Homo sapiens: one gene and its partners. The protein of the gene in region 4 purifies or fractionates together with the protein of the main gene of each other region. This does not show direct contact. Each region holds a gene or a part of one and is shown on either strand. Other genes may lie near its edges.

What was found.
Region 1: the proteins of KLHL22 (region 4) and EMC7 purify together in Homo sapiens (co-immunoprecipitation; 4 studies listed by BioGRID and IntAct, with this or other methods). This does not show direct contact.
Region 2: the proteins of KLHL22 (region 4) and GLUD2 purify together in Homo sapiens (co-immunoprecipitation; 4 studies listed by BioGRID and IntAct, with this or other methods). This does not show direct contact.
Region 3: the proteins of KLHL22 (region 4) and SCAF8 purify together in Homo sapiens (co-immunoprecipitation; 3 studies listed by BioGRID and IntAct, with this or other methods). This does not show direct contact.

What each region holds. Positions count from the first base shown.
Region 1 is NC_000015.10:34,084,861-34,091,885, forward strand, and holds part of EMC7 (endoplasmic reticulum membrane protein complex subunit 7 precursor), read right to left. Parts: intron 5,596-7,025; coding exon 5,457-5,595; intron 3,274-5,456; coding exon 3,193-3,273; intron 1,507-3,192; exon of another isoform or gene 998-1,506; intron 1-997. UniProt on the Homo sapiens protein: Part of the endoplasmic reticulum membrane protein complex (EMC) that enables the energy-independent insertion into endoplasmic reticulum membranes of newly synthesized membrane proteins.
Region 2 is NC_000023.11:121,042,832-121,050,600, reverse strand, and holds GLUD2 (glutamate dehydrogenase 2, mitochondrial precursor), read right to left. Parts: upstream 2,992-7,769; 5' UTR 2,917-2,991; coding exon 1,240-2,916; 3' UTR 507-1,239; downstream 1-506. UniProt on the Homo sapiens protein: Important for recycling the chief excitatory neurotransmitter, glutamate, during neurotransmission.
Region 3 is NC_000006.12:154,827,396-154,834,420, reverse strand, and holds the end of SCAF8 (SR-related and CTD-associated factor 8), read right to left. Parts: intron 3,500-7,025; coding exon 3,281-3,499; intron 2,483-3,280; coding exon 1,026-2,482; 3' UTR 200-1,025; downstream 1-199. UniProt on the Homo sapiens protein: Anti-terminator protein required to prevent early mRNA termination during transcription. Together with SCAF4, acts by suppressing the use of early, alternative poly(A) sites, thereby preventing the accumulation of non-functional truncated proteins.
Region 4 is NC_000022.11:20,443,781-20,450,805, reverse strand, and holds part of KLHL22 (kelch-like protein 22), read left to right. Parts: intron 1-4,129; coding exon 4,130-4,363; intron 4,364-7,025. UniProt on the Homo sapiens protein: Substrate-specific adapter of a BCR (BTB-CUL3-RBX1) E3 ubiquitin ligase complex required for chromosome alignment and localization of PLK1 at kinetochores.

The DNA of each region.
Region 1 (7,025 bases), on a different chromosome or scaffold from region 4:
ACATTAGGTATATCTTCTAATGCTATCCCTCCCACCTCCCCCCACCCCACAACAGGCCCTGTGTGTGATGTTCCCTTTCGTGTGATTCTGCTTGTCTTAATAAAGAACACTTTTTTCTGATACTGAATATATTTGATCATATTCCTCTCTTATTTTATGTTTTCTGATTAAAGTGATTTCTTATTGTTTTAATGAGTACATTTTTAAGTTCATGCTTCCTTTAGATGCATATAACCAGAATATTAATTTTTAACTATATATCAAGGTATCAGTACAGTTTGGAAAATAAGTGCAATATTTCTAAGAATTCATTTATAAGCCTCAGTAGTAAATCTATGAATGCTGTATGGCTTGCATGACTTCAATTAGACTCTAAAGCAAGCAACACACTGTTACAAAGAAGTCATTGGCAAAACAGGATAGGACTTGGCACTTTTGAGTATTTGTCCTCCCCTTTAATTGAGCCAAAAATCTATAAAGTACTGTTTGATAGTTATATAATATTAATGTAACATCTGCTTCATTTAAATTTTAAGTGACATTCTCAAAGTGAACTTAAAATTGACTTTAGTTCATTCATACATGAAAAAGATAGCAAATACTATATTATCTATCATTTCTTTCATTTTTTTCTTTTCTTTTTTTTTTTAGGAGACAGTGCTCAGGTGATCTTCCTGCCTCAGCTTCCTGGGCAGCTGGGACTATAGGCACACAGCACAGCACTAGGCTTCCATTTCAAATTGAACACTGTTGGGATATTAGCTTGAGCTTTTCCCACAAAGGTAGAATTGATTCCTAAATTTTAAAGGAGAAGTTGCTTTTACAAATAAGGCTAGCGAAAGAAATATTGTAAACATAAATCAAGTATGTTAACATGCCCCAATAATTAAGAAATAAATGTATATGGTAACAGCTCTTGAGTCCCTGCAAACATATATCAACTCTATTTTTGAATCTGTTCAATTCTGAAGCTCCCCTTTTTTTTTTTTTTTTTTTTCAGTTTTTGTGGTTTTATTTAAACACAAATAAAACATGCATGAGAGCCGTTGATTCCTTTTCCTCACTGTGGAGCCTGGCATTGGGACTAGTGACTGTGATGGCCAGCTGGGCTGCTCTTTCCAGATGGTTTTGTGGTTCTTGGAGGAAACACTGTGAGTAATCTCAGCACGGTAACATTTGTTGCAGATCAGCAGTACTTCCAGCTCCTTGATGTTGTAGACCAGGAACTTCCAGAAGCCACTGGGTAGTAAGTACTTTGTTTCTTTGCTGCTCCCATAACCAATGTTGGGGATCAAGATCTGGCCCTTGAATCTTCTACGAACACTGTTGTCAACACCTCTAGGTTTCTGCCAGTTAAGCTAAATTTTGACATATTGGTCTGACTGGTGCCAGATAAACCTCTTAGTTGTCTTTTTGATGATCTTGGGCTTCACAAAGGATCTGAGGGCAGCCATGATGCCAAGTAGGAGATGGTGCCACCTCTGCAGGCAGTGCCAAGGAAGAGAGCTTCTGAAGCTCTTGAATCAACTTTTTAAGATGCTTACTATGTGCAAAGCACTTCACAAGGAATGAACTTTTTTTTTTTTTAACGGAGTTTTGCTCTTATTGCCCAGGCTGGAGTGCAATGGCACGATCTCAGCTCACTGCAACCTCTGCCTCCCAGTTTCAAGCGATTCTCCTGTCTCAGCCTCCCAAGTAGCTCAGATTACAGGCATGCGCCACCATGCCCGGCTAATTTTTTTGTATTTAGTAGAGACGGGGTTTCACCATGTTAGTCAGGCTGGTCGTGAACTCCTGACCTCAGGTGATCCACCTGCCTTGGCCTCCCAAAGTGCTGGGATTACAGGCCTGCGCCACCGCGCCCGGCCAGAATGAACTTTTAATCAAATGTGACTTCTGATGTTTCCTTCTACTGATGCCACAGTTAATTGGCTTAACATATACAAGGAATGCACAGGATGTATTACTTTCAGTCTAACACTGAAGCAAAAATGCAAACATTCACCAATAAAACATTTTGAAATATCAAAAACCTTTCTTTTCCTATGAATCTTTTTCTGCCATTCCTGCTTTGAATATACCCCTTATTACCTTCCACAGAACATAATCACCTACTACCTTAGCAAACATTTTTATTTACCTTATTTCTTTAAGAAATAAGACAAATTTCTATTAAGAAAAAAGAAAAGAAAAAGTCACAAAATCCCCTGATAGCAAGAAGAATATTTGATAAATCCATTCTATTTTCTACATTTAACTGGGACTGAGCCTACTGATGACAGGTATGGCCTATAATTCATTTCTGTATCTCCAGTATCTAGACCCTAGAAATTGATAAATGTTTACTCAGGAATGAATAAAATGTCACCACATCTATATACTAAATAAAATGGGGAACCTTGAAACTCAGAAGATACTTGTTGATGGTTGAACGGAAAAATGCATGATGGTTTTTTGAAAAAATGAAGAGTTCAAATAGAAGCCAATATTCAAAGAGAAAATGTGGTGGCACTAAATTGGAAGCATCCTACTTAGCAAATCCTCTCCCTCTGCAGAACCAGTATGGTTTTGTGGAACAGAATTCAAAGGTCACTCTTCTACTTATCCATCCCCCTTGGTCTATCTGTGTGTCTGAACACATAAACTGAGTATGTACTCTGAAGAGAGTTTTGTAAAGTAAAGGCAGATCACAGGAACAATCACTTTGTAAAATATTTAGATTCAGCATACCAGAAGTATTGTACATTTCAGCTATTTAAAAAGTAAGGCACACAAAGAGGCTAGGATGCAGTAAGATGTTTTAGCTACATAAAGAGATCCAGGCCAGGCAGAACTAACAATTTATCTAGTCTAATGGAAGCAACTAATTAAAAGCCATAAACATGATACTATGTTAATACAACCTCTAGATTAATTTGGCTTGGGAACTAGAATAAAATTGAGAAAAACTAAGCTACCCAGCTACGATGGGACAGAGCAAACATCACAATACGGTTCAAAAACCCACAGGTGGGGCCAGGCATGGTGCCTCGGACCTATAATCCCAGTGCTTTGGGAGGCTGAGGCAGGTGGATAGCTTGAGCCCAGGAGTTTGAGGCCACTCAAACTGATTGTGCCACTGCATTCCAGCTTGAGCAACAGAGGCTCTATCTCTTAAAAAAAAAAAAATCCATAGCTGGACCATCATCTTACCCGTCTCATGTCAGGATCACTTGTGTTGACCACTTTAGGCAGAAGCACAAATATCAATAAAGGAAGAACCATCATCATAACCTGCAGAAAAAAAAAATCCAGAAAATGTTTTTCCCCCACTTTACAGTTAATAGAACAAAAACTGCACTTAACAACCAATGGTAAAATTAAAGATTTAAACGTTGTCTATACAATAACACTAGTAGCAACCACCGCAATTCTACTGAGCCAGTTCTGATGATAGCAAGGGGCTGTCTGTCTGACTATGGTGGACTATTATAGAATATTAAAGTTTTCTGTATGTATGTTTGGACTTTATAGACACCTCACTTCATAGTTGTGCCACCCACCTATCTTTTTGCAGAGTTACAGTGTTATTTAACACAAATAGTTTGCAAATGGAACTATCTATTCCCTTTTTTTTTTTTTTTAATCTATAGTCTGGCAATGGGATTGGTGATCTGATGGCAAGCTAACTGCTCTTTTCAGGTGACTGTGGTTCTTGGAAAACTGACCTACTTTAGCAGACCAGTTTTGAAAAATGACCTAGAAGCATCAAGCACTGGAGCACTAGATACACTTCCACGGAATTTCAGAAATGAGAACATGGAAGGTGAATAAGCTCTGGAGTTTCACTGCTGACTTCTTCCATCCAGTCTCCCCCCGCCTCTTTATCTCTGATTACAGATTCTAGGTACTAATTTATTCCTCCCTAGGGGATATACAGCCTCTGAAAACAGATCATGTGTGATCTAAATAGCTATCAGCAAGGATTATGACCAAAACTTAGATAAATTCTTTTATTTTTATTTTTATTTTTTGAGACACGGTCTCGCTCTGTTCCCCGGGCTGAAGTGTGGTGGTGCAATCTTGGCTCACTGCAACCTCCACCCCCTCTGGTTCAAGCAGTTCTCCTGCCTCAGCCTCCCAAGTAGCTGGGATTACAGGTCCCCGCCACCACACCCAGCTAACTTTTTATATTTTTGATAGAGATGAGGTTTCACCATGTTGGCCAGGCTGGTCTCGAACTCCTGACCTTGTGATCCGCCCACCTCAGCCTCCCAAAGTGCTGGGATTACAGGCGTGAGCCACCGCGCCTGGCCTACTTAGACAAATTCTAAGACAGCAATTCAATTTTTAAAAACAGCAAAAGAAAAGGTCGATTTGTTTCTAAAAACTGTTTTCTTGATGATAGTCAACAATAATTTATTGTATATTTTAAAATCACAATCAAAGAGTGGAATTGGTATGTTCCTAACATTTATAAAAACATGATAAATGCTTAAGGTGAGGGATATCCCAATTACCCTGATGTGATTAATACACATCGTATGCCTATATCAAAACATCATATGTACTTCATAAATGTACATCTATTAGGCACCTATAATAATTAAAAATAAAAACAAATTTTTAAAGAATGCATGCTATTAGTGTTTTATTATTAGTGAGTATCATAACATCGGTTCATAATGCCAACTACTTAAATTACCATAGAATAACTTTTCTCTTCACTACACATGTTAAAAAAAGAGGAAGAAATCCTTACTTGTGCTATCAATAGGGGCTGGTTAATAAATGATGGCACATTCATCAATGGACTAATAATATGCAGGCAGTATGGCTGGGTGCGGTGGCTCACGCCTGTAATCCCAGCACTTTAGGAGGCCGAGGCGGGCAGATCACCTGAGGTCAGGAGTTCAAGACCAGCCTGGCCAAGATGGAGAAACTCTGTCACTACTAAAAATACAAAATTAGCCGGGCGTGGTGGCACATGCCTGTAATCCCAGCTACTTGGGAGGCTGAGGCATGAGAATCGCTTGAACCTGGGAGGCAGAGGTTGTGGTGAGCCGAGATCGCACCATTGCACTCCAGCCTGGCCAACAAGAGCGAAACCCCGTCTAAAAAAAGCCAAAACAAACCACAAACAAAAAATACGCAGGTAGTATGAAGAATGAGACAGCTCCAGGTATGACTGACTTACTGAGTATTCTTATTCTATTTGAAATGTAAAACATGCTATAAATATTTATCCAATTTCTATTACACATTTCAATAATCAAATCTACAGTGCAATTCTCATTATATTCTCTTCATTATGTATTCCCAAAGCCACTATTCTTCTGAAATCTGCAAATTATTCACAATTATCCTTTCATCCACCAATCTGACCTCAGCTTTCTATCTCACAGAGGTTTGAAGTTTCCACTGCCTAGAAGCAAATTAGGTATTAGTAAAGTGCTTTATTTTAGCCTGATACATACCATTGGGTTCATTAGAAAGTCTGTCCAGCCCCACGATTCCCTTTTAATAAAGTAAGAAGGTGGACCTGAAGATTTCATTTGGAGAGGATAGGGCAGTCTGACAACCTCTGATGTTTTGATGTAATTCACATATCTTGCTCTGATAAAGCAACATGGGGAAAGCAACAGTAATTCCATTAAAAACATTACTGGTTAAAAGAACTGCTTATATTATATTAGCAATGCCTTATACACACTTTCAGCTTTTTCCAAAATGCTTTAAAACCTAAACTTTTGATCTTGAAAATCTGACCAAAATAGCTTTATCTACATGTCTAAAATATGCAGCAAAACACAGAGAAAAAAACGCTAGACTTGGAATCTTCTAGCTGCAGCTCTGTCATTACCTAGACCTGTGGGATTAAATCAGTTCCCTAACTTCTATTTATGTCAAAAGTTCTTTTAGAATCCTTCTGGTGCTAAAGTTATTTGATTATATTTAGTAATGAATTTACTTCATTATACCATACAAAAATACTGGATTTTATTTTTTTGATGGTCTAAGAAATGCATTATTGGATGTAACCAATTTTTAAGGCTATATTGCCAGAAAATGTTATAATGCAAGAAAGCACTGCAGCAGTGCTATAGGTAACGCTACATTTTTCACCAAAGACGCACTAATTTTAATCAAAATTCTCATCCATGTTTACATAGGATCCATTTTACTTTTTGAAAACTGCCTCTCCTATTTCACTGTCATTGCTGTGTTGGGAAATTTTTTTTCTGATCTGTCTCCCACTTCATCAGACTTCTGCTCAGTTTCTTAATGCATCCATTTAGTTGTACATTTCAATGCCTATATTCATTGTAGAGATTCTATTCTATTCTTTTTTCAAATATCTATAGCCTATTTTGGTATATCATTTCTATGGCAGTCTTTTATTTCCTTAAGTACTTTAAATATACATTAAATTATTTTACAGTCTATATCTAATAATTCTACTATTTAAAGTTCTTAGAGGTCTGATTTATTTGCTGACTCAATGTAGACTGTTTTCTTGGGTTCTTTGTAAGTTTAGTAGACTTTATTTACCTTTATTTAAGTAAAGAGATACAAAGGGTATCTCCTTCCAGAGAGATTATGCATTTGTTACTGCCAGGAATTTGGGAATTATAAACAGAAACTATTTTGTTCATTGCTTAGCTTGGAAGTTCCTGGATTATGCAGAAAGTAATAAATTCATACCCCAACTTGTAATGAGTGTAGGAGCGTAACTATCAGTTTTCAGGGGAGACTTTTTCCCCCAAAGGCCAGCATCAGACTTTTCCCTCCGAAAATCCAGGGCCTTCTGCATTTTAGTACCAAAGGTCAAAGGGAGGACCAAATTTTAGATCTAATTCTGACTCCAAGCAAGCCCATGGCTTGCCTCCTCCCTGCACATTGCTAATTAAATCTAAGCCTTCTGGGTTAGAGAATATCAAAATCTCCAGGTGGGGAAGTGCTTTATAGTTTATCCCCTAGGGATTTCCTTTGTTGTGGGGGGAGCTATGCATTTATTAATAAAAGAAAATGTTCGTCATATTTTT
Region 2 (7,769 bases), on a different chromosome or scaffold from region 4:
GTAGACTTTTAATAACTGCTTTTATCACCAGGTTAAGCCATGCAGTTACAAAGTAGTTAGAAATTTCTGAAGGATATTATAGTTAAAAAAAAAAAAGCTGATTCTTACACATATATTATCTAGCACTTCATGGGGACACTATTGTTCAAAAGGCCCTGGCCAAATAACTCCCAAATGAAACACTCAACCCAAGGTTGGTTTCAGCCCACTGTTAGTGAAGCTGGGTGCAGAATGCAAAGCCTCTAAAAGAAGAGGATACAAAGTCAGGTGAGTAGGGGCCATTGGCAATGCTCAGAGCCAGCCAGACTCCAAACAGGGAGCCCAAGTGGTTTTTTTCTGGGACACTCTACTTGAATTATTGTTTAATTAGTCAACCATAGATCTTCAAAAGAGAACAATTAGTTAACATGATAAAAAGGTTACTGCATTCTTTGGACTATGTGTCATAATTATAACAGCGAATTCTGACAGTTTTAACGAAAATAGCCTCCACCGTTTTGCAGGTATGAAGATAACGTAATTATCCACAGGGCTTTTAATGTTTGCTGGACAACAATACGTGAATGATAAGCTACAAATGAAACTTTTATGATATAAAAATACTGTTTTTTTTCATTTATTATTTTTATAGGCATTCACTGAGTCAAGGTTAGGCTTGTTAAGTGATTAAAGGCAATTTTATTACAGCAGCATGTACTTATTCTATTCTAAAAGAATAAAATTCATAAACAGAAACAGCTTTTATATTTGTTTGCAATCTGCAAAATTGAGTTATTTTGCTGATATAAAATACTAAGAACTCACTTGAGGACCATGCCACCTTCTGAAAAGGCCACACACCTTCTTCTTAAATGTGTTAAAGTTACAGCGTGTCCCAGACTCATCCAGAGCAAAATAAGTAAGCAACTGACTGCTCTTGACTGTCCCTTCCCCAGCACTAGCACTGATTGTGCTGGGAAAAGCCACAGAGCAAGGCTGCACAGCCATATGGAGGAGGCTTTTTATTTAAAGGCAAAATACCAAAATAGCTCTCTGGTGTAGGTGATTTCTACTTTCACACTCAGCTTGTATATTAATTTCTTTCTCCTTAACGGGCTGATTTGGATTGACTTGTTGAGAATGGTATCCATTAGTAATGAGTCAGGAGAGAAAGGGATTTCTGTGGTTACATGTAAACTTGTGGTAGGTCTGCAGAAGTTACACGTGAAGAGGTTAGTGAGGAAGTCAGCCATGATCCATCTATGTGAAGGTCACACCAGCTTCACTGTACACTTTGAAGACTTTTTCAATGGCATTGACATAGGCAGCTGTTCTCAGGTCCAATCCCAGGTTATACTTCATGGCTGTGTGCATAATTTGCCTGGCAGAACGCTCCATTGTGTATGCCAAGGCAGAGTGCACAATGTCTTTCTCAGATGCACCCGATATACTGTCTTGGAACTCTGCCGTGGGTACAATGGGAATAGTTCCACCATGCTTTCCAAATTTTCTTTCTAAACTCTCTTGAACAGACAGGAGCAAGTGGTAGTTAGAATCCCTTTCATATTTGAAGGTCAAACGGCCATAGCTGACATGATTTAGATTCTTCAGCCACTCAAAGTAAGATACTGTCACTCCTCCAGCATTCAAGTAGAGATCTGGAATAACCAAAATGTTTCTCTCCAGGAAGATCTTATCAGCTTCTGGAGTTGTTGGCCCATTGGCACCTTCAGCAATGATCTTGGCTTTGACTCTGGGTGCGTTGGATTTGGTCAACTGCTTCTCAGTGGCAGCTGGGATCAGTATGTCACAGTCGACCTCCAAGATGCTTCCTTCATAGGGCTTTGCCTTGGGGAAGCCCAGAATGGACCCATGTTGCAATTTGAAGTCTTCCAGTTCCTTTGGGTCAATACCATCTGGATTCCATATACTCCCATCAGACTCACCAACAGCAATACATTTAGCACCAAAACGATGTAAATATCTCATAGAGTGTAGGCCCACATTACCAAATCCCTGAACAACAAATGTTTTATCTCTAAACCCTGGTGTCATTCCTAAAATGCTCATGTAAGAAGCTTCATTGATGAAGTTTTCAATCCCATGGAAGACACCACGGCCAGTAGCAGAGATGCGTCCATGGATTCCCCCTTGGCTGATGGGTTTACCAGTAACACAGGCGTGTGCATTAATATCATAGTGCCCTATGGTGCTGGCATAGGTATCAGCAATCCAGGACATCTCCCGCTCACCTGTGTTCATGTCTGGAGCAGGCACATCAACGCCAGGACCAATAAAGCCCTTCTTTGCTAGCTCCATGGTGAACCTCCTTGTGATCTTTTCCAATTCATTTTCGGTATAGTTCTTGGGATTGATCTTAACACCAGCTTTAGCACCCCCAAACGGCACATCAACCACTGCACACTTGTATGTCATCAGAGAAGCCAAAGCTTTTACTTCATCTACACTCACATCAGTGCTGTAACGGATACCTCCCTTGCAGGGCGTGCGGTGCTGGCTGTGCTGGGCCCGGTAGCCTTCGATGACCTCCCAGGAGCCGTCGTCGCGCCGGATGGGGAAGGAGAGACTCAGCACATGGTTGCAGGGCTTGATGATCCGCAGGATGCCGCGCACCCGGTTCCGCTTCTGCTCCTCGCTTTCCTGGGTCCTCAGGTCCTTCACCAACTTGTCCTCCACGATGCTGGCGCCGCGATCGAAGAAGCCCTCCACCATCTTGAAGAAGTTGGGGTCGTCCTCGCGGTCGGCCACCAACTCGCTGTAGTGGCGCCGGGCGGCCAATGCGAGCCCCGGCTGCGAGGCGGCGGCGGGCTGTCCGCGGCCCCGGCCCAGCAACGCGGCCGAGTGGTTGGCCGCGGAGCCCAGGGCAGCGGGCCCGGCCCGGGACGGCAGCAGCGCTTTGGCCAGGTAGCGGTACATCGCGGCAGGCGGAGGAGGGGTGCGTGACGGTCGCGGAACAGGTGCGCTTTCTCAGACTCCCCGCGACTAGGAAGGAAGGGTCCGGCGCGGGTTGCCCTTTTAAGCCGCAGCTTCCTGCCTGCCCGGCTGTCCCCTCCCCTTGGGCGCCACCTAACGGGGAGGACGGACTTTGGGGGCAGGGCGCCAACCAGGGCGCCGGACCTCCGGGTCCGGAGGTCCGGGGCGCCGGACCCGCCGCGGCCTCGCCGGGCCTGGCTGGCCTGTTTGTTCTATACTTCTAATGTTTAATAATTACCCAGAGCTTTGGATATATGCAATTCTGCAAAATAAATCAAAAGGAGTCAGAAGGCAATTTTATTTCCTAATAGACCCTTAGTTAGAATTTAACTTAAAAGCCATTTTTAACAAATGTAAACAATATCTCCCCTCCTCTCCATCAAAGTCTGACGGAGACAAATGAAAAGATTTTTTAGAAGAATAGGACTATATCAAGACCAAAAAAAAAAAAAAAAGCTAAGAAAGGGTACCATCAACAATCTTTACAGAACTTCTGGAAAGTAAAAAGCAAATGGTACTGGCCTGGGGAATAACCAAAGAAAATGAAACCTCAGCCCCGGATGGCAAAGGTAAGTGCAATTCTTCCAAAGAGAGCCCTGAGTGAAATTTTAAACAGGAGTGAACAAAACAAAAAGCAGAGATTGGGCCCTAGAGTACTCATGGCCTTATTTCATTTAATAAGTTGCATCCACAAGCAGTGGACCAGGAGGATCCTGCCCCCTCTCAGATAAAAAAGAGCAATTGGCAATGGCAGCTTTTGCCCCTTGGACAATGGTTCTCAAACTTGAGTATGCAACAGAATCACCTGAAGCACTTATTAAAACACAAATTTCTGAGATTCACTTGGAAAATTCCTTATTCGGCAGTCATGGAATGATTCACCTAACAACATGAAAGCATCCTAGAAGCTTTGAGTTAAACTATTAAATTATTTGCAAGAAAAACAACAATGCTGCCAAAACATACAACATAATGCATGTTAAAAATCACAGGATGTCTTATTATGAAGAACAAGGCAAAGATGCCTACATTTGCCATTTTTATTCAACATAGTATTAGAAGTTCTAATCAGAGGAATTAGGCAAGAAAGAAAAAAAAACAGAAAAAAAGTAAAATTACCTCTGTTCACGTATGGCATGACCTTATGTGTAGCAAACGCCAAATATTATACAGAGGGAGAGAGAGGGAGACAAACACATACACAGAGGTAATATACAAATTCAACAAAGTTGCTGAATACAAAATAAACACAAAAATATCAGCTACATTCCTATATGCTATGAAGTAAATATCTAAAAAGGGAACTAATAAAACAATTCAATTTACAATACTATCAAGAAGAGTAAAGTACTTAGGAATAAATTTAACCAGTGAGGCAAAAGACTTGTACATTGCAAAATACAAAACATTGCTGAAAGAAATTGAAGGAGGCATAAGTAATGAGAAGACATTCTATGTTCATGAATTAGAAAACTTACAATTATTAAAATGGATAATACTTCACAAAAGTGATCTATAGATTTAAAGCAATCCCGATCAGGATCCCAATGATGTTTTTGGTATAAATAAAAAAGTCTATTCTAAAATATATATGGAATTTCAAGGGGCTCAGAGTACTCAAAATAATTTTGAAAAAGAACAATGTTGGATGATTCAAATTTCCTGATTTCAAAACTTACAACAAACCTGAAGTAATCAAAATAGCGTGGTACCAGCATAAGGACAGACATAAACAAATGAAATAGAATAGCCCAAAAATAAACATTAAACATATAATCAGTTAAATTTTTAAAATCTTTTATTTATGTTCAGGGGTACACATGTAGGTTTGTTATATAGGTAAACTCATGACACAGAAATTTGTTGTACAGATTTTTTAGTCACCCAGGTACTAAGCCTAGTCCAATTGTTATGTTTTCTGATCTTCTTCCTCCCACCCTCCTCCCTCTGGTAGGTCCCAGTGTTTGTTGCTCCCCTCTTTGTGTCCATGAGTTCTCATCATTTAGCACCCATTTATAAGTGAGAACATGCAATATTTGGTTTTCTGTTCCTGGGTAAATATGCTAAGAATAGTGGCCTGCAGCTCCATCCATGTTCCTGCAAATAACAGAGTCTCATTCTTTTTTATGGCTGCATAGTATTCCGTGGTGTATATGTATCACATTTTCTTTGGACAATCTGTCATTGATGAGCATTTAGGTTGACTCCATGTCTTTGCTATTCTGAATAGTACTGCAATGAACATTCGTGTGCATGTGTTTTGTTTTTTTTTTAATTTCAATAGGTTTTGGGGGAACGAGTGGTGTTTGGTTACATGAATAAGTTACTTAGTCATGATTTCTGAGATTTTGGTGCACCCATCACCTGAGCAGTGCACCCTGTTCCCAACATGTAGTCTTTTATTCCTTGCCACCACCCACCCATTCCCCCAAGTCCCCAAAGTCCAGTGTATCATTCTTATGCCTTTGCATCCTCATAGCTTAGATCCCAATTATGAGTGAGAACGTACAATGTTTGGCTTTCCATTCCCGAGTTACGTCACTTAGAATAATAGTTTCCAATTCCACCCAGGTTGCTGTGAATGCCACTATTTCATTCCTTTGTATGGCTAAGTAATATTCTATGGGATATATATATATCACATTTTCTTTATCCACTCATTGATTGATGGGCATTTGGGCTGGTTCTATATTTTTGCAATTCTTTGAACTGTACAATACGATAATTGTGACACAACCTATCAAAACCTCTGGGATACAGCAAAAGCTGTGCTAAGAGGAAAGTTCATAGCACTAAATACCTACATCAAAAAGTCTGAAAGAGCACAAATAGACAATCCAAGGTCACACCTCACGGAACTGGAGAAAGAACAATCCAAACCCAAACTTAGCAGAAGAAAGGATATAAGAAAAATCGGAGAAGAACTAAATGAAATTGAAACAAACAAAAATTACAAAAGATAAATGAAACAAAAGGCTTGTTCTTTGTAAAGATAAATAAAATTGACAGATCATTAGTGAGATAACCAAGAAAAGAAGAGAGAAGATCCAAATAAGCTCAATTAGAAATAAAACAGGAGATTACAACTGATACCACAGAAATAAAAAAGATCATTTAAGGCTACTATGAACACCTTTATGAGCATAAACTAGAAAACCTAGAAAAGATGGATGAATTCCTGGAAATATACAACCCTCCTAGATTAAACTAGCAAGATACAGAATCTCTGAACAGAATCTCTGAACAAGCAGCAAAATTGAAATGGTAATCAAAAAATTGCCAACAAAAAAAAGGGACCCGAGGACAGGCCTACTCAGCCTGATTCCACCTACTAGTGCTGAACATGCCATCAGGTGGTCTGGGAATTGCCCTGCCCCATAAACCACCATTAACACCAGAGCACTCTTCCCAGGGTCCTGGGAATGAGCCCACCCAACCTGATGCTACTACCACAGCAGGCATCCACTCACACATGCCACATGCAGGCCTGGGTACTAGCCCACCCAGCCCATTGTAGTCACTGCCAACACTAGTGAGGACCAATTGCAAGGCAGAGGATTATCCTGCCACTGCTACTGCCATCACCATGCCACGCCCACTGCCAAGAGGCCTGAGGATATGGCCACTCACCCAGCCCACTTCTGCCACTGCCAACATGTGAGCAAGCTACCTGGAGCCCCAGGAATCAGCCCACCTGGACCAACTAATGCCAATGCCAGCTTATGCCACCCAGAGGCCCAGTGACAGGCATGCTCAGCCTGATGTTTTCACCAATAAAGCCTGAGCACTGGCCAACCTGATATACCTGTGACCACGAAAATGTCACAGCCTGTACTAGCAGCTGCACCCTATGCCACTGAGAAAATCACAGGCACCACTGACACTGCTTACAGCCAAAAAAATCATATGGAGACTGCAATACTGCACATACACAGAATCAAAGCACTACCCAACCAATATCATAAATACATCTTCAGGAAAAAGTTCTTCCCTACAAAAGCAAATTCAAAAATTGGAAGAAGCAACTGTTACACCAGATGCACAGACATCAGTGAATTAGCACAAGAAACATGGAAAAGCAAGGGAAAATGACACTTCCAAAGGAATATAATAATTCACCAGCAACAGATCCAATCAGAAAGAAATTAACAAAATGCTGAATAAATAATGGAAAATACAGATTTTTAAGAAGCTCAGTAAGACACACGAGAACTCCGAGGAACTATACAAAAAAATCAGAAAAACAACTTAGGATATAAATGAGAAATTTACCAGACAGATATCACTTTAAAAAGCAGCAAATAAATTCTAGAAGAATTTATGGAATGAAATACAAAATACATTTGAAAGCATAAATAATAGGCTAAATCAAGCAAAAGAAAGAATTTCAGAACTTGAAGACTGCGCTTTTGAAATAAACCAGTCAGACAAAAATGAAGAAAAAAGAATAAAAAGAATGAGAAAAGCCCATGTGAAATATGGGACACCATACAGCAACCAAATATTTTGGATTTTTAGTGTCCCAGAAAACAGAAAGAAAATAAAAGGGATAGAAAACCTATTTAATAAAATAATAGCTGAAAACATCCGAAGTCTAAAAAGAGATTTAGACATGCAGATACAGGAAGCTCAGAGATCCTCAAATAGATGTAATTCAACAGGTCTTGTCTTTTTTCCCAAAATGAATGACTAGGGACATTGGATGCCAGTTCTCCTCAGAAAGATCAAAGTTACTGGTGAGTGCATGTTCCAAATAGAAAACTGTGGGAAGAGAGCCAGGACCTGTCAAAAACTCC
Region 3 (7,025 bases), on a different chromosome or scaffold from region 4:
AAGACCAAGAGCTTTAACTATAACCCATGTTAATTAGCCAGATTTCTCCAATATTCTACCAGATTTAAAAGAATATTTTATTATCTAAACTTTTTCAACTTTCTATTTTCTCTGTATGTGCATGAAGACGGACATACAGAGAAACAGAAAAAAACTACACGACTTCCACAATAAACATACACAGATATTATACACATACTGAGGAGGCTGCATGATTTTTATATCAAAGTACATGCTTTTTCCACCACATAGTTCATTGTTGTTATGATAGAAAGCTTTTGCAAAAAATAAGCACATGCTAATAATAATTCAAGGTTTTAAGAATTTATAGGTTAAAAAAATACAATTCCTAGAACACTGTTATCAAACAAATAAGTTTTATTGGCATCTAAAAACAAAATTCACCCAACATTGAAACGTACTTTAATATTTATGTTGTTGTTTTCTTGTTTCTTTTTTACTCACTGCAGTATGAGGAACAAATCACAAACACTTACTTTGGAGAAACAGAGACCGTAGTGTAGATTTTACAAAATCACTTTTTAAAATCTCTGTATTGTGCTCCTCAAATACCTAGAGCCAGTCTTTGCATAAAATATCACAGCTTTATCTATAACCTTAAAATTCTGCAGCAGCCTAAAGATATGGATAAGATATACCACCACTTGCTATTCTGAAATATATCTATTACCATATCCAACCTAATGATAGTATCTAAAAAATTCTTTCTTCCATAGGAAGTCTCTGACAAGCTGTTATTCATTTCCTTGACGTTAAAAGAATCTGGGGCCAACATTTGTATTTTATCAGAAAAAAATAAAAAAAAAGTTTACCTACCATGTTCATATTAAGAACAATGTCTATACAAGTCAGTTGTACAATTATTTTAAGAGAAAGGTGAACATGAACATCAGATTAACTTAATTCTGGCAGACAAAAGTGAACAACTATGGTCCAGTCAGCCATTATCTATTACAGAGAGATGACAACTTTACAAAAGGTATCTTTTACCTACTGAGTGATGATTATGTCCCCTCAGTTTCTGTGCTTTCTACCACTGGTTCACTTTCTATATCAGCAACTGTGTCACTCTTCTCCTTGTTTATTTCATTTGAAGATGTCAGTTTTTCATAAAGTTCAGGATCATTCTGTACTGGTATAGGTGGTGGCTGAGCATGTCTCTCTGTATTTTCACCATTAACCTGAGGCACATTATCACCTTTTCGTTGAGAAGTGGCCCCTTCAAAATAATCAAAAACCCGAGCATGAGGAGGGGGAACCCAAGTGTTTTGAATTCTGTCTCGTCCAAGACGATTTCCATTCATTTCTCTGCAGAAATCAAAATCTCTGTCATCCCTATCCCTTTGCCTCTCCCAGGGTCTTCTGCGGTCATCAAAATCTCTGTGAACTTCTTGTCCAAATCCTCGGTTCCAAGGACCACTTCTAGGATCAAATCGATAGTTTCCAGACCGAAATCTACCTCTTTCTTCATGTAAGCCTTTTGGACCACCATAGACCGGTAGAACCCGATGCTCTCTCTCATCAAAATCTCCTCTATGCCCCCAGGGCTTCTCTGGATTAAAGCCAAAGTGGTCTCTTCGACCAAGATGATCTATACCTGGCCTCACAAGATTCTCTCTTATATCTACAGGAGGTCTTCCAAAATGATCCCTACCATCTAGTGGAGGCCGTCCAGGACCTTCTCTTGGATCTATAGGCCGCCCAACCACATCTCTAACATCCACAGGGGGAGGTCTACTAATGCTTTCCCTGGTTTCTATAGGAGGAAACCGGTAATCTCTATCTCCTTCCTGTTGAATGTTATCATTCCCAAGTGGTATCCTTTTTTCTGGGTTAGTAACATTGTCTACGCTTTGTCTTCCAGGAGCTAAAAAAGGTCTTTCTGGTTGACTAAAAATATCTCCTGGAGGAAAAGGTCCACGGGGTGGTGGATGAAGAGCTGAATCAAGTACCGATGGGGGTGGGATTCCCCGTTGGGGTGGAATTCCAGGCTGTATTAAAGGGAATCTTGGCCCAGGTGCCTGTGGTATTAGTCCCGGACGAATGTCTAACATTGGCATTGTGGGCATCCTTTGATTAGGGATACTTAAAGGGGGTAAGTTTTGAGGTCCAGCTGGTGGCTGTGTTCCCAGAAGTCCAGGAGTATTTGGAACATTTGGTGGCTGTACTCCTACAAGTCCAGAATTGTTAGGTATATTTGGGGGTAGCACTCCCAAAAGTCCAGAACTATTTGACACACTGGGTGGCTGTATTCCCAATATTCCAGAGTTATTTAGAATATTTGGTGGTTGGGCTGCAATAATCCCAGAACTACTGGAAACATTAGATGGCCGGACCCCAAGAATTTCAGAATTACTTGATACATTTGGTCTTTGGACTCCCAGAATTCCAGAATTGCTTGTCACATTTGGCGGCTGTCCTCCTAAAATTGCAGCATTACTTGAAATATCATTTGGAATCACTAAAAAAAAAGAGAGAGAGAAAAAACTCAAAATAACAGTCAAAAGTTTCCAATAATTTTAGCTTAATCAGCTACTTGTATCCCCCAATAATCAAGGTACATTAGCTACTACATGACATCTTTTTAAGTTAAACAGAAATGTCAGGTATTATACTGATTTTCCACCTTTAATAAAAGCCTTTCTAAACCATAATTCTTTTTTTTTTTTTTTTTTTTTTTTTTTTTTTTTTTTTTTAAGAACAGGAGTGGAGGTTTAAAAGGCTTTAGGACAGGAAAGAAAGGAAAGAAAAGTATGCTTAGAAGAGACCCAAACAGGCATCAAGGTCAAGTGCCTCTAAACCATAATTCTTAATGTACCAACAGTGGGACCATAGAAAAAGGACTTACTGCTTTCAAACACCATATTTATCTTCTAGAGCTAGCTGGATAATACCTATTAGAAGTAAGTTCCCGATAGAAGTTACTCACACCCAATACTTGTTCATTTTTATCTTCCTATAAGTATACAGATTTTGTGCAGTATTATTTTGACAACACACTGAAGTAGTCCCAATAGGACAAAAAAAAGGGGGTGGTGGTGTGAGGGTCTTAATGGAAACATATTGAAATCTAGATTATCCTGAACAGAAGGCCACTTTTTCAAATAGAAATTTTAGGACATAGTGATCTCTTTTAAAAAAAAAGTGCGACATTTCAGCATCTGTAGATTGAAGTGGTTACAAACGCATGCCACCCCAGAATTAAACACCAAATACAGAGAGGCAACCTCTTTTTTTAAATTTTATTATTATTATTTACCTGATCTGGTGTTTTCACCAGAAGAAATCTGGTGGTCTATAAGATGAGGTACTTTTTCTTCAGGCTCTGCCTGTTTAGTTGGAGCATTAAAAACATTTCCAGCTGGCAGAGCGGAAGTAGCAAGATTGCTGGCAACAGAACCGCCTGGTATAACAAGGCTACCAAATCCAACATCTTTCACAGTTTCCGGTGTCATGGATAATGACGGCTGCACTAAAGCTGTTTAAAGAGGAGAAAAATATATTTCAGATTTAATGAGTCAATTCATGTGCTAAGTTTTCTGGCAGTCTGAGTATTTAATTTAATGGCATCTCTGTATTACTAAGCACATTATATAATAACCAATGCTCAAATGACAAAAGGAGTCATCATGAATAGGCTAAATTACATTTAGAAAGCTTTATCCAAAAATAGGGAAAACTAACAATTTTCAGAAATATTTCACCAAAGATGTTAGGACCAGCACTCAAAAAAAGTAAATTCTAGTAACAAAAAAATTAATAATTTTCTAGGAATGCCAGATAAAGTGAATGTCTAAACATACAGAAATGACTAGTGCAGACTGAAATGTATGAGTATGAAAATCTGCCCAATCCCCCTGCAATTACAATGTACTAGGGTCCTAACATTCATTTAACATTACCTTTTGTCAGATGAAGTTAGAAACTCATCAGTTGAGAATACATAAGGTGGACTACAAATATGAAGCTATAAACTTTCCATCTTAAAGAATGGGTATAAATATCCCTAAGTGCATTTGTCACACATATTAAAAAACACAACCAGAGGAATACAAAATAATTACACAATTAAAATTTTTAGCCCAATATGTCACTTAGAATGCCGTAAAATCATACTTGGAGAACTTAGGAAATGTTTTATCTTCATATGTAACTCTAGATTACCTGAACAAACTGTTAGCATACAACAGAGCTACAAAAATAAAAACACCTGTGGTCATGCACAAGAATTAAGAGAATTAAATGAGACAGCAAAGGCAATTTGGATAGCATCTGGCACACAACTATTTCTCTTTTTCCATTAATTAACTGCAGATTTTCCAAAATTAGTGGACTAGGAAAAAATTGGGAGGTTGGCCCTAGGGTAAGCCTCTGTGAATAGTGAATTCAGAAATGACTTCTGAACACTTTGTCTAATTTTCAGAAAGAATAAACAATTCTTCCTAATGAACCAACAATAACAAAAAGAAAGACTTTTAAACCTATCTTTTTTTTGAGACAGTCTCTCGCTCGGTTGCCAGGCTAGAGTGCAGTAGCGTGATCTCGGCTCACTGCAACCTCCACCTCCTGGGTTCAAGTGATTCTCCTGCCTCAGCCTCCTGAGTAGCTGGGATTACAGGCGTGCGCCACCACACCTGGCTAATTTCTGTATTTTTAGTGGAGACGGGGTTTCACCATGTTGGCCAGGCTGGTCTGAAACTCCTGACCTCGAGTGATCCACCCACCTCAGCCTCCCAAAGTACTGAGATTACAGGCATCAGCCACCATGCCCGGCCAAATTTTAAAGCTATGTAAACACTGAAAGGGAGAAAAAGTTTAAGAATACAAGGAAAATGAATTAGATAATCAAAAGTTAAAACCTTTATATATCACATACACTCTTCAGGTCTAATTTTTGAGGTAGGCTTGCCTGAATTACTAAAGGTTTTTTCAGAAGCTTGGAGAATTACTGTACATAAAGAGTACACTAGAATGAAAAAATTATTAAAAGGGTATATTTAGCATTTCTGTAACGTCCAATGATAGAAAAAAGGAAATGAATAAATGTCTATATTTACTGTTGCATTACATTACTTTTGAAATGTCTATTCTAGTAAAGAAAATACAGATATCAAAACCAAGTAAGCTAGAGTGCATATCCCATAAAAATGTAAAAAAAAAAAAAAAATCACTTATGAAACTGGCACCACATCTACAAAGAAAAGATTTATTTCAGGTAACCCTGATACACAATAATTTGATTATACATTATTTATTAAACTTTTATGTTCAGGGGTACATGTGCAGGTTTGTCATATAGGTAAACTTGTGTTTGTTATATAGGTTACTCATGTAACAAACAAATATTTATAGATACCTGCACATGTACCCCTAGTTATGATTATACACCTTTGGGATAAAAAAAAAGTGGCAGAAAAATCTTAGTGTCATCTGGTAGCCTTGTTGGCAGTAACACTACTTTCAAACTACTATGTGTATGTCTATATTGTATGAAAATGAAAAGCAATCACGTTACTGTTTTCAGTATATGAGAACACAAGCAAATATAAAAATCAAAGTAGCTAATTTCTTTAATAATACTTCATATTCATTTTTTTCTGTTCAAAATGCACATTTTCTAGTTTTGTCCACTAAAAATTCCTAGACTCGACGAAAACCCAAGAGCAAAATGAGAATCTAGTACCCAGACTGAGTTCTCTAGATACCATACCCCAACTGGAAAAATGGCTGATTCTCAGATTGGAGGGAGGAAAACACAAGATTTGTCTGGGATATACTGGGCCAAAAAGCTAAGTAGCTCTCAAAACTAATGTGACAGGGAGGCAACACAGGTCTCCCACCGTCCAAAGATGAAACAATCTACACTTCAAAAAAAGAAAAATGCAACTGACTAGAAGTAAAAATCCATTAATCCATAAATACTAAAGAAACTGAAGGAGAAAAAAAAAAGGGAGAGAGGGACAAGGGAGGAGAAGATGAAGAGAAATGAGAAATCTCTCTTTGGTCACTGGGTATCACTGGAAATACCTATAGATCTCATGACTCTGAGAAATGGCAATTAAAGAAAAAAATAGCATCTACCCTGACTTTGCTGTACCAACCACACTTCAAGGTAACTAAGTACCATTACCTGATTAAGGAAAACTTTTTCTTCATTTAAGTTAAGAAACATGGAAGGAATTATACATTTAGAAAGATCACCACTCTGCAACTAATAAAAAGTAGATCTAAGAAACAATGATCAATGGATGAAAGGAAATGTTTTTAATGACCAGGTTCTACTGTTCCACTAAATGTTCTGATCAATCTTAACATCATTAAAAGGGGAACAAAACACCAAGAGTGAATCAAAATGCAAACTAAGGACTTTGGGTGATAATGATTTGTCAATATAGGCTGGCTAATTGTAATATACGTACCACTCTGGTGGAGGATGTTGATAATGAGAGCCTGTGCAAGTGTGGTGGGTGGGGGCTTATGGGAATCCTCTGTACTTTTGGCTCCATTTTGCTGTGAACCTAAAAAACTGCTCTAAAAAATAAAGTTTTACACCGCCCCCCCCCCCGCCCCGCCCCAAAAAAGGTGTGGGGCAGGAGGACAAAAAGGCACTGCAAGACTTCTGATGTGATAGATAATACCAATCCTACAGCATTTTGCTTCTCAAGTATTCTTGCTAAAACAGGTGAACCGGAATCTAAGCAAGCCTTTGGTGCTAACTTCCATTTTACAGGAAATGCAAAGACAGTAATTTCAGTACCACAAAGAAGCAAAAAACCAAATCCATTATTTAAGCTCTTATATACAGAATGAACTGTTTCTTCAACAAGTCATGAAGCATTAAGAAAAGGAAGGGAGGACTGGGGCAGGACTGCACTAACATTAAGACATTTAATACACATAGCAAAACAAAAAACACACAAATAGGATGAGAGGACCTTCTCTGAATTTTGACTAAAATAAAACCAATCATAAGAGTTTAAGACAACCAAGCAAATTTCAATAAG
Region 4 (7,025 bases):
TGAGGGTTAGCAGGGGCATCTGCATATACTGTAGCAGGCTGGGCAAGGAGTCTTTCTGCTCTTTCTTGGCATGCTTCACCCAACTGATGACAGCCTCAAAGACTGGTTCTTCAGGATCCACCTGAATTTCATCGCACTTGATTAGCTTTTCCACCTCTCCTTGCCTCAGAAGAATGAACTCTTCATGCTGTACCACTTCAGGAAAATTCTTCTGGCTAAAAACCTCAGCTGCTTGTGTCAGGTCAACACAATTGTGGGTTTCAGCAAAATCCCTAATACCCAGGCAATTAGAAGGGTCCAACTGACTTTCTAAGAACTCACAGCAGGCTTGTTTCACACCTTTCAACTGAAGCAGACAGGCTGCAGGAAGCAGTTCCTGTACATTCTCCATGTCACATGTACTGTTTCCGTGTACACAAAGTCCAATAAAATTTCCATGGTAGAGGCAGTCAAACCTTGGATGTCAACATAGGGTTTCCCCTTCTATAAAGGTCACTAGTGAACATGGCACAGAAGTAATCACTACAGGCAGCCAGCACAATCTCATGGGCAGGAAAGTCTTTCTGCTCTACTCAATGTCACATCACAGAAGGTATTGCTCTTCCCAACGGAGTTCATTGAACTGAGGATTGATTTAGCATGAGTATTTGTCATTATGTCTTTGGGGGCCATAATGCCTCCCATAAAGCAGTGCGGAGAAAGAACAAAAATAGGTCCTTGGATTCTGCAACTCTGCTTCTGATCCCACACAGCCGCGCCAGGGCCTGTCCCCAGCCTGTGGGGATGGAGTGGGGTGCGGGTCCAGCAGGTGGCTCAGGAGGAGCCGAAGCGTCGCCGCCGCCGCCCCGGCCCGGAGGCTCTGGAGCTGTCCGGGTCTGCTCCCTGCGGCCACGCGACGTGATGACCAGAAGAAAATCTTGAGGATCTAGCTAGGGCTAGGCAAGGAATTCTTAGACTTGACCCCAAAAGCATGAGCCATAAAAAGAAAAATTGATAAGCTGGACTTCATCAAAATTAAAAAATATTTGCAAACCACCTATCTGACAAAGGACTAGTATTAAATAAATACATATATAAACAACTCTTAAAACTCAATAAACGGCCAGGTGTGGTGGCTCACACCTGTAATCCCAGCACTTTGAAAGGCTGAAGTGAGCGGATCACGAGGTCAGGAGTTCGAGACCAGAGACCAGCCTGGCCAACATGGTGAAACCCCATCTCTACTAAAACTACAAAAATTAGTTGGGCGCGGTGGCACACGCCTGTAATCCCAGCTACTTGGGAGGCTGAGGCAGGAGAATTGCTTGAACCTGGGAGGCAGAGGTTGCAGTGAGCCGAGACCGTGCCTTTGCACTCCAGCCTGGGCGACAGAGTGAGACTCCATCTCAAAAACAAAAAACCTTGGCAAAATACTGCAAATAACCCCATTAAAAAGAGGGCAAAAGAAGCCGGGCACGGTGGCTCACACCTGTAATCCCAGCACTTTGGGAGGCCAAGGTGGGTGGATCACGAGGTCAGGAGATTGAGACCATCCTGGCTAACACGGTGAAACCCCATCTCTACTAAAAATACAAAAAATTAGCTGGATGTGGTGGCGGACGTCTATAGTCCCAGCTACTTGGGAGGCTGAGGCAGGAGAATGGTGTGAACCCAGGAGGCAGAGGGTGCAGTGAGCTGAGATTGTGCCACTGCACTCCAGCCTGGGCGACACGGCAAGACTCTGTCTCAAAAAAAAACAAACAAAACAAAACAAAACAAAACAAAAAACAGAAGGCAAAAGAGTTGAAGAAACATTTCACTGAAGAGGATGTATAGATGGCAAATAAGCATATAAGGAGATATGTAACATTATTAGCTATCAGGGAAATGCAAATTAAAGCCACAGTGAGAGAACTACCTCAGGATGACTAAAATAAAAAGTAGTGAAAATACGAAATACTGGTGACTGTGCAGGGAAACTATGCTCATGGATTGCTGATAGGAATGTGAAATGGTACAGCCACTCTGGAAAACAGATCTGGCAGTTACCATCCTGGGTATTTATCCCAGAGAAATGAAAACTACTCTGTATACGTTAGCCAGGCATGGTGATGCGTGCCTGTAATCCCAGCTACTCCGGAGGCTGAGGCACAAGAATTGCTTGAACCCGGGAGGCAGAGGTTGCAGTGAGCCAAGATTGTGCCACTATATTCCAGCATGGGCAATAGACCAAGACCCTGTCTCAAAAAAATAAAAAATAACTTATCTGTACATGAATGTTAATAGTAGCTTTATTGGTAATAGCCAGAAACTGGAAACAAATCAGGTGTTTTCAACAGTGAATGGTTAAACAAGCTGTGGTAGATACCCATGGAATACTACTGAGCAATAGAAAAGGAACCAACTATTGGTACATGTTGAGTACCCTTTATCTGAAATGCTGGGGACCAGAAGTGTTTTGGATTTCAGATTTTTTCAGATTTTGGAATCTTTGCATTATAGTTACTGGTTCAGCATTTCTTATCCAAAAGTCTGAAATGCATTTCCTTTGAGTGCCGTGTTTGTGCTCAAAAAGTCTCAGATTTTGGAGGTACTCAACCTGTACATGCAACAACCTGGTAGAACCTGGGTTGGGGTAGAAAGCCAATGTCAAAAGGTTGTATACTGATTTAATTCAGACAACACTCTTGAAGTTACAAAACTGTAGAAATAGAGAAGAGATTGGTGGTTTCCAGGGCTTAAGGAAGGGATTAGGGTAAGGGAGGTGAGTGGATGTCACCCTAAAGGGCAGCCCCTCGGGATCCTGGTGGTGATAGGACAGTTCTGTGGCTGTGTCCACGTCAGCATCCTGGTGACCCTGTGATATAGTGACACAGGCTCCTACCATGGGGGAAAGAAGGCACGTGAGACCTCTGTATTTTTACTTCCAACTACACGTGACTACACTTATCTCAAAATGAAAAGTTTAATTAAAAAGAAAAACCTCGGCTGGGCGTGGTGGCTCATGCCTATAATCCTAGCACTTTGGAAGGCCGAGGCAGGTGGGTCACGAGGTCAGGAGATCGAGACCATCCTGGCCAACATGGTGAAACCCTGTCTCTATTAAAAATACAAAAGTTAGCTGGGTATGGTGGCGGGCGCCTATAATCCCAGCTACTCGGGAAGCTGAGGCAGGAGAATCATTCGAACCCGGGAGGCGGAGATTGCAGTGAGCCGAGATCGTGCCACTGCACTCCGGCCTGGTGACAGAGCGAGACTCCGTCTCAAAAAAAAAAAAAAAAAGAAAAACCTCCCCAGACCCCTACTGGTGATAGGAGAAGACCCAAACCAAACCCTTGGTGTGTGTTCTTCCTCCCCACTGCTCCGTCCACCTCTCTAGACTCTTGTGTTTTTGCCACCCGCATGGCCTCAGTGTTAGTGACTTGCCCAGTAACATAGCTCTGGAGCCTCCACACCCTGAGGGGCTCCTCTACCCTCAAAACACCCAGGGCCTTGCCTTGGGGCCTTCTGTTGGCCTGCTGGGTGTGAGTGGGTGGGTTCCGGAAGTGGTAGGGCCAGGGTAAGAGGTGCCCATGATGGGGGCAGGCTGGGCCCTATGGAGATAGCCCAACAGAGGGAGGGTAAAAAGCCCACAGAAGGTTCAGGACCAGAATCAAGAACCATGTGTATTTTTCTCCCCACATCATGAGTTTAGTGTCAGATATTATTTACAAACATTTTAAAAGCAGGGTCAGCAGGCCCGGAGGATTGCATGTCCAGTGGGAGTGGGGGAGGGGTGGAGGCCACTGAGGGTGGGTCAGCGGTCCCCAGGGTTCTGTGGCTTCTTCCAGACTGGCTTGGAAAAAATGCTTTTATTTTCTTGGAGTTCCCCCATGCAGATGTTAACTTTAGGAGCAAAGGAAAGACAAAGGCTACATTTCATTTCTGAGTCTATAGATGTATCCGCTATTGGGAAGAGGTTAGAGGTCAATGACTAGGACAGTATGTCCCATGAGAATCGAGGGAGGATTCTTGTCTGTATGTGAGTGGGAAGTGGTGAAGCCTCACAGCGTTGTCAGGCAGGTGTGGGGTGGTGATTGGCCTTGACAGAGTACCCAGCCACCCTTCCTCACTGCCCTCTCACGCCATTTCTCCTGGTGGCTCCACACAGGTGTATGCCCACGCAGGCGCGACGCTGGAGGGGAAGATGTATATCACCTGCGGCCGCAGAGGGGAGGATTACCTGAAAGAGACACACTGCTACGATCCAGGCAGCAACACTTGGCACACACTGGCTGATGGGCCTGTGCGGCGCGCCTGGCACGGCATGGCAACCCTCCTCAACAAGCTGTATGTGATCGGGGGCAGCAACAACGATGCCGGATACAGGAGGGACGTGCACCAGGTGAGTGGGGCCCGGGGCAGTCCACACCCGTCATCATTCCCAAGCCTCTCAGTTGTTATTGATGGAAAATGTAATTGAATCATGTGCCTTTTAAAAATAGACTATTTTTTAGAGCAGTTTTAGGTTCACAGCAAAATTAAGTGGAAGGTACAGTTTCCATACACCCCCTTTTCCCCCCATACACATATAGCCTCCCCACTGCAGACCTCTCGCTCCAGAGGGGTGGATGTGTCACAGTTGTTGAAACTGCATTGATGCATCACCATCAACCAGAGTCCACAGTGTTCACTCTTGGCACATTCTATAGGTTTGGACAAATGTCACCATGACAGTATCACACACATACACATCTACCTTTGCTTATTACTCTTAAAAACTTTTAGGCCGGATGTGGTGGCACATGCCTGTAATCCAAGCAGTTTGGGAAGCCAAGGCGAGAGGATCACTTGAGCTCAGGAGCTTGAGACCAGCCTGGGCATCATGGCAAAACCCCATCTCTACAAAAATACAAAAATTAGCCAGGTGTGGTTGCATGCCTGTACTCTCAGCTACTTGGGAGGCTGAGGTTGGGGGATGGCTTGAGCCCAGGAGGCAGAGGTTTCAGTAAGCTGAGATCACGCCACTGCACTCCAGCCTGGGCGACAGAGCCAGGCCTTGTCTCAAAAAAAACAAAAAAAAACAACAACAAAACTTTTAGATCCAGGCTGGCAGCACATACCTGTAGTCCCAGCTACTCAGGAGGCTGAAGTGGGAGGATTGTTTCAGCCCAGAGTTGGAGGCTTCACTGAGCTATGATCACACCGCTGTTCCCCAGCCTAGGTGACAGAATGAGACCCTGTCTCTATTCAAAACAAAATAAAACAAAACAACAGAACAAAACTTTTATTATAAAGTTAATATAACCACATTGCCGGAACTTTAAAAAATAGAGATGGGTGGCCGGGCGCGGTGGCTCACGCCTGTAATCCCAGCACTTTGGGAGGTTGAGGCAGGTGGATCACGAGGTCAGGAGTTCAAGACCAGCTTGGCCAAGATGGTGAAACTCCATCTCTACTAAAAATACAAAAATTAGCCAGGTGCGGTGATGGGCGCCTGTAATCCCAGTTACTTGGGAAGACTGAGGCAGGAGAATCGCTGGAACCCGGGAGGCAGAGGTTGCAGTGAGCTGAGATCACACGACTGCACTCCAGCCTGGGCAACAGAGCAAGACTCCATCTCAAAAAAAAAAAAAAAATAGAGAAGGGTGAGGAAAAGCATTCATAATCAGGCCCCTGCAGTACTGTTTTTCAGTATGACCATTTTCAGCATTGACCGTGTATGTTTTCTGCCTGATTGTAGTCAAAGAGCATCCCATTCTGAGCTGGGCACAGTGGCTCACACCCGTAATCCCTGCATTTTGGGAAGCCAAGGCAGGTGGATGGCTTGAGTCCAGGAACTGATACCAGCCTGGGCAACATGGTGAAACTCCATCTCTACTAAAAATACAAAAAAAAATTAGCCAGGCATGGTGGCTTGCACCTGTGGTCCCAGCTACTTGGGAGGCTGAGGGAGAATCAACTGAGCCCAGGAGGTTGAGGCTGCAGTGAACCGTGATGGTGCCACTGCACTCCAGCCTGGGCAACAGAGCGAGACCTTGTCTCAAACAAACAAACAAACAAACAAAAAAGAGCATCCCATATCCCATTCTGCTTCTCTCAGTGACTTTTGTCCTGGGCATTTTCCAGATTAACACTCAATCTTCATCATCCCCTCTTGTGTCTAAGTTTTAACTATTCCAAATAACATGACAAGTAATAGTTGCTTTGTTGAGCTTTTCAGGTATTTTGGATTATTTCCTTAGGTTCATGCAACAGTTCTCAAAGTGTGATTCTCAGACTAACAGAGTCTGCATCACCTGGGAACGCTGTGTTACGAGGCACCTCAGACCCACTGATTCGGAAGCCCTGAGGGTGGGTCTTGGCGATCTGGCTTTTAACAGGTCCTCTGCTTGTGAGATCCTCTGGGCCAGCACATTAGTTTTCTATTGCTTCAGTAACCTATCACCACAAACATAGCAACTTAAGATAAATTTATTCTGCATTCATAAGTCCTCTGACATGGGCCTTGCCAGGCTAAAACCAGGGTGCGGTCAGGGCATCTTTCCTTTGTGGAGACCCTAGTGGGGATCTGCCTCCCTGCTCACTCTGGTTAGAAGAATTCAGTCCCTGGCAGTTGCAGTCCCATTTCCTTGCTAGCTGTCAGTTGAGGGCCTTCTTGGCTTCTAGAGGTCCCCACTTTTCCTGGCTTGGGGACACTTCGTCTTCAAAGCCAGCAATGGCAGGTTGAGTCCTCCTCACTTCTCAGCTCTCTTGTCTGGCTTTACCCTTCCTTTTTTTCTTTTTTTTTTTTTTATGAGATGGAGTCTTGCTTTGTCACCCAGGCTGGGGGGCACTGGTGCAGTCTCAGCTCACTGCAACCTCTGCCTCCTGGGTTTAAGCGATTCTCCTGCTTCAGCCTCCGGAGTAGCTAGGAGGACTACAGGTGTTCGCCACCACACCTAGCTAATTTTTCTATTTTTAGTAGAGACGGGGTTTTGCCATGTCGGCCAGGCTGGTCTCAAACTCCTGACCTCAGGTGATCCACGCACCTCAGCCTCCCAAAGTGCTAGGATTACAGGCGTGAG